Linked DNA regions of Homo sapiens: region 2 is linked to region 1. The links come from fine-mapping of genetic effects on gene expression. A gene starts in region 1. The other region holds a variant in brackets. All regions are shown on one strand. Distances are from middle to middle. Region 1 holds the start of LINC01990 (long intergenic non-protein coding RNA 1990). Region 2 overlaps LINC01990 (long intergenic non-protein coding RNA 1990).

Evidence for each region.
Region 2: its variant is fine-mapped to the expression of LINC01990 in nucleus accumbens (GTEx, PIP 0.97).

Annotation. Positions count from the first base shown.
Region 1 is chr3:107,425,976-107,437,634 of GRCh38, forward strand. LINC01990 (long intergenic non-protein coding RNA 1990) reads left to right here and starts at 4,955. Exons shown (of 3, transcript NR_110039.1): 1 at 4,955-4,983. RefSeq lists a silencer at 5,501-5,750 and an enhancer at 5,961-6,150.
Region 2 is chr3:107,457,291-107,468,949 of GRCh38, forward strand. LINC01990 (long intergenic non-protein coding RNA 1990) reads left to right here. Exons shown (of 3, transcript NR_110039.1): 2 at 3,383-3,500; 3 at 5,283-6,622. Among named protein-coding and RNA genes, the nearest start is that of LINC01990, 32 kb to the left of the region's middle. The variant A/G (reference allele first, on the strand shown) is at 5,600.

The DNA of each region.
Region 1 (11,659 bases):
GAAGACAAGTAACAACATAAGGTAGCATGTAGTCAAGTAGCAAGTGAGTGACCCAGATAACAACTGTTGTAGGACTAGAGCACTGGTTCTCAAAGCGTCTGTGGAGGTCCTCGAGACTCAGGGGTTCTGTGAGGCTAGAACTATTTTAAAGTACTAAGGTGATATTTGCCTTTTTCACTTTGCCAGTGTTTTCACTGATGCTGGGTGAAACTGTGGTGGTCTTGGCACAAAGCAAGGAAGTGGAATCAAATTGTAGCAAAAAAAAAAAAAAAGTCAGTTTCACTCAAGAATGTACTGGATAAAGCAGTAAAAAAAAAAGGTATTTGACTAAATTTATTAAATCCTGACCCTCTAGGGTATGTCTTTTTAATATTTTGTGGGACAAAATAGAAATGATACGTAAAGTGCTTCTATTACACACAGATGTACGAGGGCTGTCTAGGAGAAGCACTAGTGCAATTGAGTTTCAAGTTGAACTAGTCACTTTTTTTATAGAATAGCATTTTTATTTGAAAGAACAACTGACTGACAAGACAAATTGTGGTTATTCAGACTCGAATATTTGGCAGATTTTTTTTCTCAGAAATAAACAAAGTGAGCCTGTCACTTCTAGGAAAACAATTGACAAGATTTTTTTTAACCAATGATAAAATTATTTGAACTTACAAGTAAAAATTAAAATATTGGAAAATTCATATCCTAATATGTAAAATATTTCCTGATGAAATACAACTAATGAATATGATATTTTTGATATTGTACAATGAAATAGACATTTGGAAGAGCTGCATAATTCAGTGAAGGAATAATTTCCCAGTGACCATTACATGCTGTTACAAATCACTCACTGTATTATGATTTGCGTAAAACATCCAAGCAATAGACCAGTGGGTTTTAATGTAACAGAATATGAAAAGTTTATTGATATGCACTTAAATTCCCCATTGCAATTAACTTTTTTGAAATTATCATTTGAAGGATTTTGTAGTAGTATTAAAGACTATCCACAATTATCTGAAAACACTCCTTTCTTCAATGATGCTTCTCTTTGGGGACAGATTTTCTTATGTACTTAACCTACACAACATGTCACAGTAGATGAAAATGCAGAAGCTAATATGAGAATCCAGCTGCCAGATATTAAAGAGACTTCCAAAATATAAAATAACATTTTTCTCAAATTTTTGTTTGGGAAAACACTTATTATTTTATTAAAATGTGTTACTTACGTTAATACGTAATGGCCTTGTCATTATTATAAATTAAGTAACTCAAGTAACATATTTTAAACATTTCTCCAATTTTAATTTCTAATACAGTAGTATCAATAGATGCAATCCTCATAAACTTACATAAACAAAAGCTTTGTGGGGCTTTAAGACGAAAATATTTGAGAATCACTGGACTAGAGAAAGAGCAGCCATCAGGAGAAGTTAGAGAAACTGTTCTCTGGGACCTGCTATTTCATAATCTCCAAACACACCCTTCCTCCTCCAGCGCTTTATGACCCAGACTGAATGGTGTTGATTATTTAGAGTTGGCCAATTTACACTAGTGTTCTTCAGGTAACATTTATATTTGTGGAAATGCAATATAAAATCCTTAAATGCAGCACAACTCCTTCATAATCACAGACCTACTATTAAGTGGCAGAACTAATAACACATAGAATAAATATACGAGATTTTGCCAAGTATCAGTGGTTCTTTTCCATGTCCAAAGCCTCCCTTTTAACATTTATTATTATCATTTTCCAACCCTTCCATGGACCTAATATAATTAAAGATATTGTCTAGCAAACAAACTACATTTATTAACAGTAAATTTATTTTCCTACTTTGGATTGACTTTATGCAATGCCAGGCAAAGCAAAAACAATAGAATTTTCTGCAGTAATCACGCAATATCTGTTTAGATTTTTGAAAATTTAAACTAGGTTGTAGATTCCTCCCCACCCCATCATTACTTCCAAAAAGCACTTGGGATATAGAAACTCGAGGTTGAGATCCTCTGTGGCCTGTAGGTTTTGGTTTTGTTTGAATTTAGCTTTTGGTTTTTGGTCACTCAAATCATGACAGAAATAAGTTTTCCCATTTTTGCTCAGTGATCAGATATCTGAGAATCCAAGGTTTGAATCCCTTATACGGATACATGCAGTTTTAGGGTTTGCAGTGAGACAATGAAAAAGCCTGGGCTCTAAAATCAGAAAATGGCCTTCCAGTTAATAGCTGTGTAAATGTAGGCACGTCGATCAAGTTCACTGAACCTTAGTTTCCTTATATGTAAAATAGAGCTAATCATATCTACCTTGCTTAGCTGGTATGTGGCACAGGAAATGATAGACATTATTATTCAGCAAATAAACCAAGTTGTGCTATAAATCCATAGACTGCTTTCAATATTGAAATTATTTCATATTTTTGCCAATTTGTGGCAAAAAAATGTAAAAGACACTTTTGTGATTGGTCCTTGGTATAGTTTTGCTCCTTTAAACATGGACTAAAACTTGCCCATGCTCAGTGTGCAGGTCCTTCAACACATTTGAAGGTGAACAGTGCTGGTCCCTGACAAACTTAAAAATTGTTCAGGTTTATCTTTAGGCACAAAGAATAATCTGTGTTCTCAAATGCCATAGTGACCTCTGTCCCACGGTTCAACAGCTGTAGGGCTATCCATAGAAGCAGCTGGGCCTCTGGTTTCTCTTAGTATCATGAACCCAATATGGAAATCCTCCCCCTCAGATTTACTCACATTACTTCCCTGACCTTTCCTTCCTCTAATTCCTCCTCTCCCCTCTCAGATACAGATTTTATACTTTCCTACAAATGTTCTGACTTTAATTAGTATTCATCATTAATTTGAAGAGAGTCTATATTCTGACATCATGATATGAACTTTCCATGTTAATGAAATTTCTGACAATTTAGTGTGCTATTGAAATTCTTCCCTTCTCTAGTGGTTATGGTTGCATTTCTAAAATCTGTTATGATGTTGGAAGAATTACATTAAAAGTAGATATCATCAATGTTTTGTTCATTATTGTAATAAAATGAAAACATCTTAGTGTTGTGTTATAAATCCTATAATTAGTCTGTAATCCTTCCCTCCCTTCCAAAGGTATTTCAGGGATTAGAGTTTTTAATTGTGCGTGAGATTCATAAAGTAGGGGCACAGCCTTGTTACTACTATTACACATTTTTTTTCATTTGGATAATTTAGCCGTTATCACTTCAAAAATCTATTTAGAGATGACTATAATAGCTAGTCTCTACATTTTTACATTGGATTTTTCTTTCTTCCAAAAAAATTACTGCTCCACAAACCCCAAATATATTTTTAATTTAGGGAAAAAGTGCTTATATCTGAGAAAATGTGGATTTGGAGAATATATAGAACCTTTCCTCGGGAATTCCGAAAACTCAAGCGCTCTGGCTTACCAAGTGAAGTAGGTTTTCAGGAAATCCCAGCCCCTCAGGACTCTCGATCTGAACCAATCCCAGCTGCCATAGCTCCGCGCTCCCGGGATGGGGCTGTGTTGCCCACGCCTCGCGGCGCGGGCGGACACACACCCTGCTAGGACTAGCTCAGTCCTCCCAGTTTCCCTTCCGAGATGCCTCGGAATCTTTACCACGGTTATCAAACGATTCTGTGGATCAGTAGTTCCCAACTTCTAGGGACAGACGCCCTTTTAAAATTCAACGTAACAGACCACCACCCTCCAAACAGACTGTGATAGCCGTATTTTTAAATTCTCTACTGATTGAGAAAACTCAAAAACAATTAAAAACTCCAATAGAGCCTACAGTACTTTCAAATGACTGTATATTTTAATTATAGCATTTGCATACAACTGAGTTTATTTATCTATGCTGTACGCTAAGTTTAGGGGCAGGCTTGGTGCACAGATGGTTTCGCCCACCCTTTGCACAGGGCAAGCCCCCCCCAGGCGCCCAGGCTGGGAGGCCCAAGTCCCGGCAGCTGCTGCGGTGGACTTAGAGGCAGCAGCTCCTGCTTCTGCCCCAAACGTTCAGTGTAGTCGGATTCCCGGGGACAGCAGGGCAGTCTGCGCGCACATCCCCGGGGCATCGCAGGACACCTGCTGCCCCCTATCGGTGGTGAGAACAATAACCCGAACCCGGTTGGAATCAACTGGAAGAGGCCTTTTGAAAAAAAGAATATTCCAGGACTACGCAGTAGCCAGACGACTCTCTAAGAACATGGGTTTCCGCAGTCAGCTCCGACTGCCTCGTTTTAATGCAGTTTTTCGCCATTGTAGGAGAGCATGCTGGATCGAAGAGGACTCTGACACTGCTTCGGTGAAGGCGGGGAGTGGGGAAGGGGGGGTGTTGAAGGGGTTCAAGATACACCCAAGGGTCTATTTGTTTTCCACCTCCCTATTCAGCAACCCATCTGGTCCTTATGCAAAGCACTTGCCTTCTCCCGGGATGGGGACACACATCAGAGCACAGCGTGGTGTTTTCCCAAGCCCCCGAGGCACCTGTTCCCTCACATTACACCTTGAGGAGAGTCCAGTGACCTCTGCTGCAGAGGCGACAAAGGCTCCCTGGGAAGCCGGCCTCAGTGGTGTCCAGGAATGGCTTTCAAACAGCGTGTACTCCTGTGGTCCCTTTAATAAACATAGGACTATGCTTCAGAAAAGCAAAAATAAATGCCGAGAAGTAAAAGGAAGCTATCGGTTACCCCGTTACCTCTGAAGCCTGTATATGTGAAATTTTCTTCTGAGACCGAGCATTAAAATTTGCTTCCACTTGGACATAGCCAAGATTGCTAACAGGCTGGGAACGTGTGTGTGTGCGTGTGTGTGTGTGTGTGTGTGTTGCTACATACTCTGGGATTTCTAATTTTATTTTCATCACTTTCTCCCCGCTTATTACTACCCCCCCACCCCAATACACACACACTTGGCAGTATCCTAACTTCTTCACTCTTGTCCACATTTGTCTTGGCGCTCTGGGGAAGAAGGTAAGAATAGATAGACGAACGAAGGTGCGTGCAAGAAAGGAGGGAGGGGAGGAGGTACGGTCGGCTTGCACACCAGACTGTGCTTGTTTGAGCAGGAATAGTGGCGGGGTGTCTTCGAGAGGATAACGGAAATGCCCCACCACACGCCCACAGCGCAAGTGCCGGCGTCCCCAATCGGCCAGTGGCAGCAGCAGAACCGGGGTCCACTTGGCACCTCAGGGGCTCTCGCCCGTCCGCTCTGGGCGTCGGGCTGTCCAGTTTCCCTGGGAATCTGGGAGAGGAAGGAGGCTTAGCTAGCTCTGTTCTCCCTGCCAGTACGCTGTGGCGGCGGCCCCTGGCCAGGGCCCGGCCAACTCCCCGCTCTTGGGTGGCTGCAGGTGCCCAGTGGCCCATCCCCAGCGGGGGCGAAACGCCGAGCTGGCCGAACCTTCCACACGTCCAGCTCGGAGTGCGTCTCAGTCGCGCGGCAGAGGCCCCTGGGCCCGGGCGCTCTGGGTTCCCGCGGCCTGTGGGCGCGGTGCACAAGGGCGCGGGCGGGCGGCGGCAGCTCCCAGGCGGAAGGCGCGGCGGGGCCACGGTCACCGCCGCCGCCGCCGGGGCTCGGGCGGAAGCGCGGGCTCCGGGGGGAGGGGCTGCCGCGCCCCCGCAAGGCCCAGGGATCCCGGCCCCGAGCGGCTCCCATCCGAGCAGCAGCGGATCCCGGGCCGCCCTTACCCTCGCCGGGCAGGGATGAGCCCTGGTCAGGTTCAGCCGCAACCCCGCGCGCGGCGGGGCGAGGCCGAAGCCCACGCAGGTCCGCCCGGTGTGCGTCTTTCACTCGCACACACTGAGCCCCTTGCCAGGCGCGCAGGCCCGGGCTACGAGGCCGGCTGCTCCGCCGTCTGCCACCTCCAGGACCCAGAGCCGCCAGCCCTGGGCTCCCGGCAAGCTGTGACTTCCCGGATGGGGCCATGCTTTTCTTCCAGGACAATCGGGGCTCCTCCCCTCCCGGCGATCTTTCTAGGAGGCCACCTCCAGAGATTGCGAGGCGATTTCCTCCCTGCCGGTACCAAACTGTAACTCCTCTCGCTACAGACGCGGAGAACCAAACGCTGACTATTTGGCGAGGGACCACCACCACCCAGAAAAACACACGGTTCAGTGTGCGTTGATTGTTTGCATCAGCGAGTTCATGGCGAATAGAAGTTCTCTATTTTTGATAGCCCTGATTTTCAAGCGTTTTAAAAGTTACGTTCTGTTTTCTGCTTGGTCAACAACACGGAAAATGGAATATTGCTTTTTTTGTGATTCAAAATCAATTGTAGTTACAATGACTTTGAGAATTTCACGGCATCTTGTGAGATAAAATGGAGATGCGCACCTAGGTGAGAGTCACTGGAGTGGATTACGCAGTGGCCGGCTGGATCCGGCTAACAGTCTCTGAGGCTCATTCCTTTTCGTAATCAGCTCGCCCACTCTAGTAGGACTTTCATCTTTAAATTATTTTTTAATTATCATGAGGCTCTCAGTCTAAGATAGCAAAGATTGAGCGCCACATTTAAGCAGTTCTCTCAAACTAGCTTTACCTTTTTAGGGAAGTAATTCCTGGGCTAATCATTTCAGATCTGAGAACAAAAGAAGTTGCTAAAAAAAAAAAAACAACTTTTATTTACGCAGCAGATACTTATGGATCGTCTACCTTGCACCAAACGCGCGCGCGCACACACACACACACACACACAGTGAATACTGTGGGCTATACAAATAATATATAACATCTGTTGAATGATTAATATGTGACAGGCAATATACTTGCTACTTAAAAAGGATTCTATCATTTTACCCTCCCGGGGACATATGAAGTAGAGATATTATCATCCCTGCTTTACCTATGAGAAATATACGAGTCATGAAGTAACTTACTCTAGGTCACCCAGTTAATAAGTGGCAGGACAGGACATTACACTTTACGCCCAGTCTGATACAGAGACCTCAGCCCAACCTCTACAATGTGTCCTTCAGTCAGATCTGGGAATCTGTATATTTTGGAACCACCTTAGGTGAATGTGATAGAATTAGAACTTGAGAAGCCTTGATGTAATCAAACTTCCTCATTTTCCTGATCAGAAAACAAACTCAAAGAAGCAATTTTTCTGGAAACACACAATTGCAGAAAGAGATTCAGAGAGGCTGTTCCTGGTTTCTTGGCTAAGGTCCTTTCTACTATCCAGACTACATTGGCTCAGTCCAGGAGGAGTCAAAGAAGGTAAATAATTCAACAGTTACAAAAAGTGTACAGTCAAATCTTGATTATCCTTAGTTTCCCCTTCAAATTGCTTGCCTTCTGGATTTTTGACTGTTAATCTAGTTTCTCTCCCAGAGGGAGAGAGAAACCGTGTGAAACTCGATTATTTCATTTCTGCTCATGTTACCTGGTAAGAACGCTAATATTATAAAGGAAAATGGGGGCCAGGCATGGTGGCTCATGCTTGTAATCCCAGCACTTTGGGAGGCCAAGGCAGGAGGATAGTAGAAGTTCAAGACCAGCCTGAGCAACACAGACAATCCATCACTCCCCCCCCCGCAACCCCCAGCCCCACCCCCACCCTATCTCTGCAAAAAGAAAAAAAAATGGGCATGGTGGTGCATCCTGTAGTCCTAGCTACTCAGGAGGCTGAGGTGGGAGGATCATTTGAACCCATAAATTCATGGCTGCAGTGAGCCATGGTCATGCCACTGCACTCCGGCCTAGGTGTGGTGGTGTGCACCTGTAGTGCAGCTATTCAGGAGGCTGAGATGGGAGTGTTGCTTGAGCCCAGGAGGTCAAGGCTGCAGTGAGCCATAGTGCACCACTGTGTACCAGCCTGGGCAACAGAGAGACCCTCTCTCAAAAGAAAGAAAGAAAGAGAGAACCATGCAGACTACTGCCTTTTCTCAACAACTCTGAGCAAATTATTTCCTTTACCTAAAATCATTTGCTGATCTCCCATCCATTCTACAGGATAAAATTAAAATTAGACTTATGAAGAAGGCAGATAAAATATTACATGATATTACTACTTTTCATCACCCACAATTCTGCCTCTCATCAAACTTTAAGCAATACTAAACACGCTGTAGTCCTCTGCACATATAGTGCTGTCCCCTGCTTTGTGTTCTTGCATTATTCCCATCCTCTGCCTGGCCTTCCTTCCACACCTGTCTCTTGGAAAATGCCATTCATTTCCCAAAACTCTGCTCAGACAGCACCACACATGTGAATTTTCCTGACCCTCTGCTACCTCCCACAGAGCAATAACCTCGTGCTTGTGCAGCAGACCTCTTCTGTTCCTTACATAGTCTCTTTTATGGCTCTTAATCTGTATAATGAGTTGTTTCCATATCCTTAATCTGTATAAGGAGTTTTTCCATATCCTTCTCTTCTCACTAGAGCTCCTGAGGAATCTGTCTATGTAAACTTTGTTTAGTGTATCTGAAAACTTAGGAAAGAGGCTAAACTTACTTTAAATAGAATGTTACATTTTCAAATAATACCTTCAGTATGTTTAAAGCAATATGTCCATTTGTCATATACTACGGAATGTCAAAAAAATCTGAAAACAGAGGAAAACATAGTGTATTTATTATACTTTTTCACATTACCCCATTACTTTAAATTTAGAGGTATTTAAACTTCTGGAAACTTTTCTGGAGAATGAGGAAAAACATACTAAGCAGATTTGAAAATGTAACTAAAATAATGTTTAAATATAAGTACACACTGTTTCCTGACTTTCAGACACCTTGTAATCCGGGGACCTAACACTATGTCCCAGTTCCCAACACATAGAATCTGTTGAATTGTTCTAAACTGAACTGAGCAAATAGTTTAAATATCCATGGATCCAGGACCTTCCAGTTCTAGCTTATCACAGTTCAACCTTCTGTCTCTCCTTTTGGTGAGCTCGTATCAGCTTTAGTCACTTTGTCAATCAACCCCTGTATTTGCTCTTTCCATTTGTATTAATGCTTTTAGCTAAATTATAATTGTATGTATGCTGTTTACATTTATTAGGGAAGGAGGTCCCTACATTCTTCCCCATTGGTGACAGTACAAGTTGTTGAGGGTTAGAGACAATTAATGGAGCAATAGAGTAGATAAGGCCTTCAAAACAGCTACTGGATCATTCATTCATTTATTCAACAAATATTTTTTCAGCATCCATTATGTGTCAGACTCTGAGCCAAGGAATGGCCTCCCAGACATGTAGAGGAGTCCTGTTTTATCCAACCTCCCCACTTGTACTTATTGCACAATTTCATACTGCTAGAAGCTTATGAGTGGGCAAATGTTTTCTGTACCATCCGGGACCATGAGGGTGTCCCAAGACTAGCCACTTAAAGATTTTGCTTGAATAAATTTTCCATGTCAGGTCAACTCTTTAGTGAATAAAGCACATTGTGTATATTTATGCAAAATTCAAAAGGTAATTGATAAATATTTACAGAACCTCTGGAGCACAAATAGGTATACCCATGGACCACTTCCTTGACAAATGGTCTCAAATTAACAAACTGATCTCATATGATAAGGAATCTGCATCTCTAGAAGGGTTTATTTCGCATTTAATATAATAATACCATGACTATCTTATATGTCTGTTTATTTAGATATATTAGTAATGTTTATATGCTCACCACAAGGTAATTAGAAAGAATGCTTGTGAGATAATAGGTATAGTTTAATATACTTTTTAATATCATTAAAGTAGACTTTGTATATCACCAGGGAGGAGAATCTAGAACTCTAGATTCTTTCATTCTAAGGAAAGCAATGGGAAATATAGCAAGCTATGGAGAATTAATGAAGTCTGTAGTTCAGAGAAGAGATTATATTCTCCAACAAAAACACTTTCGGAACTTTTGGCTCAAAAAGCATTTCTTAGAGTACAGATTTGAGAAATAAGGGATATAAACATATCATTTTTTGGAAACGCAGTTTTATTTATTTATTTTTCTTTTAATCCTCATTGACACTCGGGTTGTGTCTCAATTTGCAAAGCAACCAAAAATATCCAGTCGATTATTTGAGTAATTTAGACCCCTAGATAAATTGCTTGAATTACCTCAGTAGTTATCACCATTATAATTGTATTAACTTAAATGAGGAGAGGTAACACAATATATTGGAAATATTTGGAGCCAGATGATTTGGATTCAAATCCTGACTCTTCAGTTTGCCAGCTCTATGACCTTGCATCACTTCTGTCCTTTTGTGGCTAAATCCTTTGTGAAACAGGTATATCTCTACTGCCCTGTCTACCAACAGGGGGATACTGTGAGAATCAAATGAGGTAATGGATGAGAAACTGCACTGTGAAATGCACAGCAGTGCAAATGTGTTTCTGATGTAGGTCACACAATTTTCAATTAAGAGAAATATTCCTTGAAATTTAATAAAAGGAATATCCAAATTGATTCTTGGAATCACTCACAGAATAGAATTCTCTGAATTAGATAACAAGAAACCACTTTCTCAAATATTAGTCCATTTTGTTTTGCTTTGTATTTGATCAGGAAAATGAGTTCTGATACTGCTAGAGCTGCCAAACAATTTCTACTCTGATTCCTAAACTGGTGAGGAAAGCACCAATGCAATGACAAAAAGTATCATTGACTTCTCCTGTCCTTTTACAGAATTTATTTTACTATGAGTTTGTATTATTTTTACTAATTTATTTTATAGGATTCATTATTAGTATCTATAATGATAGCTAATAAAATATTTATAAGGGGGAAATGGGAAGATGGTAATCGAAGGCTACAAAGTTGCAATTATGTTGGTTCAATAAGTCTAGAGATCTGATGTTCAGCATGAGGACTATAGTTAATGACAATGTATTGTATACAGAACTTTGCTAACAAGATTTTTAGGTATTCTTAAAAAAGTAACTATGCGAAATAATGCATATGTTAATGTCTTTGACTACAGTAAAGTAGTATGCATATAAAAATATGATGTACACTTATATATACACAATTTAAAAATTATTAATTCTATAGCCATTTATTCAAACATTTATGAGTTTATATGAAAGGCAGAGGAGAAAACTGAGAAACAAAAAAGTGTCCTATTGCTAGACCTTCACATTTGATTTTGAAACCAGTTTTCCCTAAGCAAAAAGATGCTACAAATTCATAATTTTAAACTACTGGTGCTGTTCAAACTGGAAATGAGAGGAAAATGTATTAATAAAAATAGCTGTATAAGAATTAACTAACTCATCCTAACTCAAAACAACACCCATTTCTTCCAGTTAAGTTTTCTGTTTCATTTCCCACCTCTACTTTTCCCTGTAAGTTTGGTGATTTGTGATTAAAATGGACATACTTTTCATAATAATTGCATTAACATGTCCCCGTTTTCATCTTACCTCCTAACTACTGCAGTAAACAGGAAAATTATTGCAAAATGAAAATACAAAAAACAACCTACGGTTTTTTTTTTTAAATTTATTTTGGGTAAGGAAAGGGAAAATTTGAGCATCACTTGCCAAAATAAATTACATACAAATTGTGTGTAAAATTAAGTTATTTGATTCTTTTAAAATTCTATGATGTTACAATCATCTTGAGTGAGTTACTAAACTAAGCTCCTTTCTTTTTTTTTTTTTTTTTGAGACGAAGTCTCACTTTGTCAAGTGCAGTGGCACAATCT
Region 2 (11,659 bases), 31 kb after region 1:
CACAGAAGAAGAGAAAGGGGAAAGAGGAAGTGATCCATAGTGTGAAATGGCTAAGGAGAAGGAAGCCTAAGATAACAGATATGATAACTGCTCATTTCATAGCAGTGCCTAAGAGCTATCATTGGCTTTCCACTGCCTGCAGGTTAATATTAGCCTGACAAGAAAAGGCCTTTATAGTTGGCTCTAGTATACCTTTGTGATGCTTTATCTCCCAACTGACACTGAACTACATACTAAATATGTATTGCTACTATGTTCTCCTAAGCTTTTTTATACATGCTACTTTCTTTACTTGATGACATTTTACTCATTCCTCAGGATTCAGCTCATTATGCCAGTTCCTCCATGAATCCTGGTATACTCCTAGTCCCAATTTCAATAATGTCTAGTCAGTGCTTTGTCAATGCTAACACTTCAGTTTGTACATACCTTAACGGTAGAACTTACCACATGGCATCATCATTTTTTTACCCATCTGTTTCAGTTATCTATTGCTATGTAACAAATCATTCCAAAACATAATGACTTAAGTAATAACTAAGTTATTATTGTCTCAACATTCCATGGGTTGACTGGGATCTGCTATGTGGTTGTTCTGCTCCACGTGACATCAGCTGGAGCTACAGTCAACTTTAGGGCTCCATAAAGATGGAGCATGTAAGACAGTTCACTCATACGTCTAGGACCTTGGCTGAGATAGTTGGAGGATTGGGCTCAAGCTGGGATGTTGGTGTTGGGAAAGCTGGGCTTCTTTCTCTTCATGAGGTCTCTCCACATGTTTTTTCATGTGGTCCCTCCACCAAAGCAGCCCAACTTCTTATACAGCTGCTCAGGGTGTAAGAGCGTTCCAAAAGGAAGGAATCAGAAGCTGTCAGTCCTCTTAAAGGGGGCCCTGAACTGGCACTGTGTCACCTCCACTGCTATTAACACAAGTCGGGGCCAGGAACTGCTCAAAGGCATGAAAGGACACAGTTCCATAGGGACCACTTTGGAGCTGTCACCCTTATTAATCTGCTACTTGCTTGAAGAGCAAAGATTATATCTTTTTCATCTTTGTGGCCCAAGTACCTACTGGGGAACTTAACACATAGTGGACACCCATTAAATGATGGTTGAGTTGGATCTTGAGAATTGAGGAACAGGCCAAGTTAAGAAAAGTAAGGGCCAATGCCAAGTTGGGGATGGAAGTGGAAGTATCTCAATTTTCAACTTCTGGTGTTATATCAAAAGGAGGCCACACCTGCTGTCATCAATTTTTTATCTGAATTTAAAATGTTAATCTATTGAGTGGGAACATTTAAAATATGTCATAATTTGTGTAATCCTGTTTAGCGTATTAAAAAATACAGAAATGCTAAACAGGATTACACATATGGAAGTGGCCTGAGATGCTCCTGACAAGTTGAGAGTCCCCAGGAATAACCATTGTTAAGTGTACATGTGAGATAGTAACTTTTAAACTGTGTTGCTAAGAGAAACCTGAGAGTTCAGTAGAACTCCCTCAGGGACCACTTTAGAGGGAATGGGAATGAAGGGTCTGAGCTGAGCCTATGGGCCTGTGGACTCACAACCCATCCCTATCCAAACAAGGAAGCTTTTATTGATTTCACTTTTTTTTTTTTGACACAAATAAGGTTTTATTTGGAAAACAAAGGCAGGTTTTGGGTTTTTCCCCCTGCTAAATACATTGTGAAACTTACATGCTAGGAAAAAAAGAGGAGATGAATAACAAGATTAACCATGAAGACTTGGCTGGAACTGGACAGCCTAAATTGGCAGCAGGCCAGAACAGCATGGTCCTATTGGCAAGGCAAATATAAGAAGGGATTAAAATGACCAAGCTGTCTAGGGAGACAGTATGGAGGAGGGAGAGTGACATACTTTGAGTGTAGAGCCCAGATTTTAGTCCAGCTTCATCACAAACTAGCTCTATAGCCTTGGATAGGACACTTAACCTGAGTGGATCTCAGTTTCCCCATTTGCAAAACAAGGTCATTGGTCTAAATGACTTTCGAAGTCTGGGGTTCCTACTCTAAGACTCTGTGATTCCAGGGGGTTAATGTAGCAGTGCAGGTGATTGACAGTAATTTCCAGGCTTCACATTTATTCATTATTATCAGAGTAACCCCATTTTTGCATGGTATGAGGACCAGAAAAGAAAGATGAAAAGTTTAGGAGTTTGATATTGCAGTATAGAGTTCTTAGCTCAGATAATATCTGATATTAACTGGGCATTAAATACTGCTATTGTACTAAGCACTCTATCCATAACATAGCATTTAATTCTCACAACATCTCTATCAGGTAGGTACTGTTATCCCAATTATAAAGATGAATAAATTGAAGTTTAAAAGACTGTCATTTGCCTAGGGTCATACACCTAATAAGGGATACAGCAGGGGTTTAAATCCAGGGATTCAAATGCATATCTTTATTTTTTCCCCTATTCATGTAAAGTCTGCCCATATTATAAAGTCCTAAAGAACTAGGCTTCTTACCAGCTTAACTCACTTTATACAACCATAGCACATGGCTTCAGGCATGCTGGCACCTAGTGGGAATCTTTTTATAATGATGATGCCAGTAGTGTTGACAATATTAATGCTGGTTAAACAGAATTTATCTTTGAAATGCAAGTTAACAAACAGAATCTAGAATTTCAATATCAGTTCTATTCCACTGCTTGTATGTAATTCTACAGGAAACTCTACTGCTAAAAAGAAACTATGAAAGAATGGATGCATTTTCAGAGAAGTTCAAAAATTTCAAATTCTACTCTATGAATTAGGTAGATGTGTAGGTGGCAGAAGTGTCCAAAATATTTCACATTTTGGTAGCTTGTAAAATAGATAAGTTTAAAAAAACCTTATATTTGTAAAACATTACCAGACCACAGAGAAACTTCATAAATACTATTTCAGTTAATTTTCACAACCCCATGAACATTATCATCCCATTTTAGAGATCTAAAAACTGAGGTTTATATAAGTTAAATTTTTTTGCCCAGGGTGAGATAGCTAGTAAGTGGAAGCAAATTTTTATCTTTAGACTCCAAGTCCAGTGTCTTTCCATTACACTACAAGATACTTTACTAAAATGCACATTATGTATCAGTAAAATATAACAGCTATTACCTGCTAGAATAGAATTGATTAGTTTTGCCCCCTAGAGGATAAAATTATATATTTTCCAAAGATTTGGTTGCTACAGGTAACAACTTGGAGTTATAATATTAATAATATTGTATTAATATTGTATATTTATATAATAATATTGTGATATAGATGGATTAAAATATGTGGCTAACACTTTAAAAGAGGCAAATAAAAACAAAACCAAACATAAGTTTTTTTTTGAGATGGAGTCTTGCTCTGTCCCCTAGGCTGGAGTGCAATGGCGCGATCTTGGCTCACTGCAACCTCCGCCTTCCTGGTTCAAGTGATTCTCCTGCCTCAGCCTCCTGAGTAGCTGGGATAACAGACATGCATCACCACGACCAGGTAATTTTTGTATTTTTAGTAGAGACAGGGTTTCACCATGTTGGCAAGGCTGGTCTCGAACTCCTGACCTCAAGTGATCCACCTGCCTCGGCCTCCCAGAGTGCTAGGATTACAGGCATGAGCCACGGCGCCTGGCCCAAACATAAGTTTTGTTGTTGTTGTTGTTGTTGTTGTTTTAAATTAGGACTGTGAGCACAGCTAAATGCACTATTCTGTGTATATAGGACTAGGTAATGTATCGCTATTTTAATGTTTTTAGGATTTTAAACCTAACTATTATAAATCAATAGTTTATGGTTGGACTTTAAGCTACTAGGGGTTTTGATATTTAAAGAGCTTAATTTTCTTGATCACAAGGAGAAAGCTTATATGCAGTATGTTCTTTAAATCCATACAGATTTGGAGCATCCTCTGGCTCTATTGCTAACTACCTGTGTGACCTTGAAGAAATGCATTAACCTCTGTATCTATGTTTCCTCAAATTTATATGGGGCAATCATTCCTATGATTGCTTTGAAAATTAAATATGGAAGTGTCAACAAAGCATATGGTGGAGGATCTGGTGCTCAAAGAATATTAGTTATCTTCCTTAAGGAACTTGTGAGTATTGGTATATTGGGCTACAATGTGCCTGCTACAAAACCAAAACCAAAAACCCCTTCATCTCTACTTGTCTCTACTACTAATGTCAGATAGTAGACATTAATATCTGACATTAAAGAGTGAGCTATTTAGCACCCCCTCTGGTACCTTGTTCACAGCCAGGAACTTGGTAGGTGCCCAATAAATGTTAGTTGAATTAAACTGAAATCAAATTACCACATCCCCCCAGGGTCTCAAGTGTTTAATTAGAAGCCCACCATAGTCAGTATCTCATTGGCCAGTATTCGGCCAATATATAAAAGGATGTTGTCCTTGTAACATTCCTCCTTGGTCTCTGGGCCCTGCTTTTTTGTCATGGTTCATTCCAGCTGAACTAAAATTTCCCCAAACATGACTGAAGCGATGGGCCGAATCTAACAAGATTAAGTTTAATAGGGATAAATGTAAAGACTTATACTTCAGTCCAAAAAGAATCCTGTACAAGTGCTAGATGGAGAATATGGGGATTAGCAGCAACATGTGTGAAAAGGACTTAGGGGTTTTAGTTGATATTAAGCTCAATTAGTCAACAGTGTGCTTTTCCTAACAAGAAAGTTGACGTGAACTGAGCCTGCATTAACTCCTGCACCAGCCTGGCGATTACCCGACTGCACTAGTTTTCAAACTTTAGCTATATCAGAATCACCTGGCAGGCTTGTTAAAACACAGACCATGGCCCCATCCCCCAGAGTTTCTGATTCAGTAGGTCTGGGGTGGGGCCTGAGAATTTGCATTTCTAATGAGTTCCCAAATCAGTGCTAATGTTGCTGGTTCTGGGATCATACTTTGGAAATCACTGCCCTCCTTTATTTTGCCTGGTCAGGTAACACGGGTACTATTAGTAACAAAAATAGTGAAGAGACTGAAAACATAAGAGGGACAAGGAAGGAAGGAAAGAAATGAAGAGTTGTTATGTGCTATAGTGATATTAGTATGAATAATAATAATAGCTAACATTTGTTGAGAGTTTATTATGGGCTGGAAGTTCTACCAAACATATCATATGCAATTAATGACGGTAATAATAATAACTACCAACCAGATAGCACTTACTGTGTGCCAAGTTTTGTTCTATATGCTTTACATATTTCACCCTTACAACAGTCCTAAGAGGTACATATTACTATGCTCATTTTTCAGATAAGGACACTGCAGCCCAGAGAAGAAACCTGCAAAGGCCGTGTTCACACACTCACAAGAGATATGGCTGTGATTTGGATCCAGATGTGATGGGCTGACAACAAAACTCCTGTGATACCATGAAGTCTTCGGGAGGCAGAATTGAAGTGAACATGAAGTTTAGCTTAGAGAAGAAAAGAATAAATACATACAAAACATTTGATGGTGAATAAACAGAAAATGGTGTATTCAACAGAATTTGACTCAGCAATAAAAATGAACCAAACTATGGAAAACAACACCCAACAACAGGAAGAAATCTCAAAATAATTATGGTG[A/G]GTGAAAGAGGCCAGACCAAAAAAAAAAAAAAAAAAAGACTAGAAAATGTTAACTACCCAATAGTGATGAAAAACAAGCAGATCAGTGATTGCCTAGGGAGTGGAGGGAAGGGCACCCTGAAAAGAGGTAGGAAGGAAGGGATGATAAACAGGCAGAAGGAAACTTTTGAGGGTGGTGGATATATTCACTACCTTGATGGAGATGCTTGCAAGGGTGTCAAAATGCATCACATCGTATGCTTTAAACATGCACAGTTTATCGTATGTTAATTATAGTTCAATGAAGCCAAAAAACATATTTGAATTTAAATATGTTTAGTACAATCCACAAATCCTATGAAGTAGACCAGTATTATTGTTCTACTAATAACAGATTGAAAATTGTGTTCAGTATACCTATAAAACAGGTAATTTTGACAAATAGCCCCTTCAGCATATCTAATGTATACTCAATATGTCTTACCAATTTCCAAGTAGAAATTATCCATTAAGTAATAACTTAGGTTCTATTAAAACCTAATTCAATGGAAAAAACCTATTACTAAATTCTAGCTTATTAAAAACCAGTTTGGCCATAAGAGGTCACGAATTCTAAAAACTAATAATACTTAAATAAATTACTTAAAATTACTTAAGTATTAAATAATACCTAAATATATTTACAATAATAATAGTAGTAGTAGAAGTAATGCCATTTCCTTATTAAGTTTCCCATTTTAAAAAATACCTTAAAAACTCTGAAATTTTTCTTCTGAAATAAATAAGAGGATAGATAGAATTATTCTCATTTACCAGACATTAATTTTTAAATTGCCCGAAAAATGCCTTTTCTACAACTTTTTTTTCATAACTGCTTTGATAAGAAGAATCACAATCTGTTTGGAAGTTTGCTTTGCTCAATGTCATAAGTTGGTTTACAATTCAATCGAATGCCCTGGTTTGTCACAGGAGCTCACCAATAAGCAAAACAGCCAAGCCTTTTGAAGACTAATTAGAAAAAGTACAATAAAATTAATTCACACAGCACATGTGTTTTCTTAGACTTGGAAGAAATATACTGTCTGTGAGCAAAGAATTCTAATCACATTTGGAGGCACTGCTATAGAACTGTTCCTGGGATTTTTCAGGATTATTAACACATGCTGTTCTCTAATTATTTGTGATTTAGTAGACACATAAAACTCACCTGATTAAGCAATCAAAACTGAATCTACGGCAGAGGTGGGTCTCATGCCCTCTGCATCTTTATTCTAATTTCAAGACAGAACTGAAGTGTTTCTATCCCCTGACTCTATCCCTAGGGAGAACAAAGTCATACAAGTCAAAGATAAACTAAAGGATACAGCTGGGCCTCCAAGATAAGGAGGAGTAGAGTGTGGGGAAACAGGAGTAAAGACCAAGTTCTCTGGTTCAGGAAGATCGATCCTCATCCCTCTATTGCCTGGAGGGGTGGTTTGGGAAGGAGGAGAAAAGGCCTAGAGGAGATGGCTTCCACCTGCCTGGAAGGTGGCCCAGAAAGAAAAGGAGTACACAGATTCAGTTTCAGCAAGGGACAGAGATCAGGGAGGAATTTGTGAGAAAGGCCATAGTGAAATAATCATGTAAGTGCCTTTGCCATTTCTCCCTCATTCCAAACTATATGGGGGTAGATGACTGCATGAAATCTCAGAATCCCAAGACTGGGGTCTTGGCTTTTAACAACTGACAATCAAGTGGGAAGGAATGCAAGCATATACTTCTAGGATGAATTATTGAAGTTCCTTTTTTTTTTTCTTTTTTTGAGTCAGGGTCTTGCTCTGTCACCCAGGCTGGAGTGCAATGGCACAATCTCGGCTCATTGCAACCTCAACCTCCTGGGCTCAAGCGATCCTCCCACCTCAGCCTCCCAAGTAGCTGGGACCACAGATGCAAACCACAAAGCCCGACTAATTTTTTTATATTTTTGGTAGAGACGGGGTTTCCCCATGTTGCCCAGGCTGGTCTTGCACTCCTGGGTTCAAGTGATTTGCCTACCTTGGCCTCCCAGAGTACTGGGGTTATAGGCATGAACCACCACACCTGGCCCTATTATTGAGTTCTATTAAGAGCCAGCCCTACCCAAAAAATCTTTGATGTCTTCCACTGGGGGATAGATAAGGGTTCTAGTATATTAAGAAATCACAGAATAATAAGAAAAAAAAATCACAGAATCATGTTTACATAGCACCTCTATAGACTCAGTCATAATCTGGATTTCTCATGTGTGTCCAGGGATACATCATTTAATCAAGAAACACTAAGAACAAAATCTTGCGGAGAAGGATCTCAGTAACTGGTGGGTAACCAGGACTGGTTTCACAAGTGTAGGACTTATACAGTAACACCAGTAACACAGTCCCCAAGCACCTCTCCCCGACCTGCCCCACATCCCTACTTGGTTTAATGCTCTACTGTGCTAAAAAAATTCTTAATACATTTTGAACAAGGAGTTCTGCATTTTCATTTTGTATCAGGCAATAAGTTTGTAGCCAGTCCTGAGGTTAACAATGTAAGACCTGGATTACAGACCTCTCCTTTCTGGGAAATCCCTTCTGTCTGGGCACCTTATTACTAGTTGCAATATTTGTCAGATGTTTTTCAAAAGGGAACATAATTAAAATAAACTGCTACTCCCTAACCATGTGTTTTATTGTTCTTTAATAATAATTTTGGGCCGGTGTGGTGGCTCACATCTGTAATCCCAGCACTTTGGGAGGCAGAGGTGGGAGGATTACTTGAGGTCAGGAGTTCCAGACCAGCCCGGCTAACACAGTGAAACCCCATCTCTACTAAAAATACAAAAATTAGTCAGGCATGGTGGTGCATGCCTGTAATTCCAGCTATTTGGGAGGCTGAGGCAGGAGAATTGCTTAATCCCAGAAGGTGGAGGCTGCAGTGAGCTGAGATCATGCCACTGCACTCCAGCCTGGGTGACAGAGTGAGACTCTCTCTCAAAAAATTATAATAATAATTTTTAAATTTTGCAGGGTGAGCCATTAAAAGTGGCTCACACTTGTAACGCTAGCACTTTGGGAGTCCAAGGCAGGAGAATTGAGTGAATTCAGAAGTTCAAGACCAGCCTGGGCAACAGAGTGACAACTCATCTCTATTAAATTAAAAAAAAAAATCAGCCAGGCATGGTGGTGTGTGCCTATTGTCCCAGCTACTTTGGAGGCTGAGGTAGGAGGATCACTTGAACCCAGGAAATTGAAGCTGCAGTAAGCCGAGATCATGCCACTACATGCCAGCCTGGGCAAGATAGCAAGACACTGTCTCAAAAAAATAAAATAAAAATAAAAAATATTTTTGGAATCAAGCATACATTGTGTGTGAGACATCAGGTAAAGTGCTAATACTATAAAGAAACATAAATGCCAGAGATGTAATCCTAAGTATAGTTTCCTGCAGAATTTTTTTCTTTATGTACCTTTGAGTTGTATCTGTATTCCTTTTAGCAGAGTAACTGCATCTGAACAACTACATCCACAAGCTCTCTGGCCATATCTATATGCACAATCTATTCAAAAGTATTTCATCAACTTTTATCTCCATTGTAAAATTACGCAGATATTTGGATCATCCCAAGAAGTAAAGGTCTCTACATGTGAGTACAGACTGATCCCTTAATTTGTTCCTTCTTGGCTGCCAATGCCACTGGCAGAGGAACCTCTAACACTATTTTCTAAGGGACAAGGCCCAAGTGAAATTCTGATCTACCAAGACTTGCTAATTATTAAAGTAAAGCTGAAACACCACACACAGAAAGAGTTGCTTTATAAGAGCGGTAAGAATAGGTCCAGGCCATACAACACTGATTTCCACACACACACCTCTATTGTTTTGTGTTATTTTGTTTCCTTTAACTAAGCTAACTTTTAAAGGGTTATGTCTACAGCAGCCTAGCAGACACACAACTGTGTCTGTTAACAATGAATTAGATTTTCTGGTTGCAGAAAAGTTACAAGATCTGGGCCTCTTTGGGGTGAAAACACAGAGCTAAATGTGAATAAATGCTGCAGTAGAGATGATGGCCAAAAAGAATGAAGACTACACAATTAGGATATTCAGAGACTGTTAATGTGAATCACACACTCTCTCTACAAGATCTTGATTTCAATAATTGTCAAATTAATTTCATAAGTACAGTAAAACCTCATTAATTTGGATGCTCTCAACTTAAAATTTGTATAAGTAATATAATAGAACTCCGCTGGTTTATCTTTCTATAGTGGGCACAAAAATGACAGGTATAGGCCAGATGCCGTGGTTCACGCCTGTAATCCCAGCACTTTGGGAGGCTGAGGCAGGCGGATCACTTGAGGTCAGGAGTTTGAGATGAGCCTGGCCAGTATGGTGAAACCTCGTCTCTACTAAAAATAGAAAAATTAGCCTAGCGTGGTGGTGCACGCCTGTAATCCCAGCTACTCAAGAGGCTGAGGCAGGAGAATCACTTGAACAGCAGGTAGAGATTGCAGTGAGCCAAAATCGCACCACTGCACTCCAGCCCGGGCAACAAAATAAACCACCTCTTTAAAAAGAAACAATTTTAAAACACCCTCATGTGCTTTAAAATTCTTGGTTTCATTAAATAATAATTTGGGCTGGGCATAGTGGCTCACACTTGTAACAACAGCACTCTGGGAAGCCAAGGCAGAAGGATTGCGTGATGAGCTCAGGAGTTTGACACCAGTGAGGGCAACAGAGTGAGAACTCGTCTCTATTTAAAAAAAAAAAAAAAAATAGCCAGGCATGGTGGTGTGTGCCTGTTGTCCCAGTTACTTGGGAGGCTGAGGTAGGAAGATCATTTGAACCCGGAAGATTGAGGCTGCACTGAGCTGAGATCATGCCACTGCATGCCAGCCTGGGCAACAGAGCAAGACACTGTCTCAATAAAATAAAATTTAAAAAATTAATAAAACATATTTTTGGAATTGAGTATATACTGGGTGCAACACATCAGGTGAGGGGCTAGTATTATAAAAAAACATAGATCAAAGGTCTGTCTTTAGTGAGCTTAGAGGCCAGTGGGTGAAACGGGTCAGGTACATGGAAATGTGACTCTCAATACCAGGTAACTCAAAAACTATGGAATGAGGCTGGGTGTGGTGGCTCATGCCTGTAATCCCAACACTTTGGGAGGCTGAAGCAGGAGGACTGCTTGAGGCCAGGAGTTGGAGACCAGCCTGGGCAACCTAATGAGACTTTGCCTCTACTAAAAATTTAAAAATTAGCTAGGCCTGATGGTGCACACCTGTAGTCCCAGCTACTAAGGAGGCTGAGGAGGGAGGATCGCTTGAGCCCAGGAGATCAAGGTTGCAAGAGCTATGACTGCGTTGCTGCACTCCAGCCTGGACAACAGAGTGAGATCTTATCTCAACAACAACAACAACAACAACAAAAAGTATGGAATATGAAGGCTACAGATAATTTGTTCTGTTCATTAGAGCGGAGCTTCTAAAGTATGATGTGGTCATTGCTCTATAGAGAATTATTGTAAATACTTAATTTTTTTTATCTTTTTATTTTAAGTGCCATAATGCAGATTTTCCTCTTCATTGAAGCACTTACACTTAACCTTTAGTTGTTGAACGCCTACTTCGAGTAAGAGATTGTGCTAGGTATTGAAAGGAACATGCTGAGAAAGATGCTGTTTCTGATCTCAACGACTTTTCTCAAACGAGTATTGCCCACGCTAAATGAAGTTAGGAAGGGGAAAGTCTAAGTAGCCTGCTATGAGAGCACAGGGACTGTGTATTACATTAGCTTCCACCAGAAGCCAACCATGAGACAAGAATGCATGCACAAGTTGTTTATTTGGGAGGTGATCACAGACAGCACCAAAAGGGGAGTCAGGAAGTTAGACTAGCCGATAGCAAAAGGTATATTATGGAACAGATTCCTGCTGTGAGCAACTGGGGCTCAATGTTGCTGGGGAGCTCTGGGGACAGAACAGAAGATGCCTTCGTTAGCCTGAGGGGCAAGGACACTCAGGTATTTATCTTCCAGTTTGCTTCCTCCATTGGTTAAAGGCTACTCCTGAGG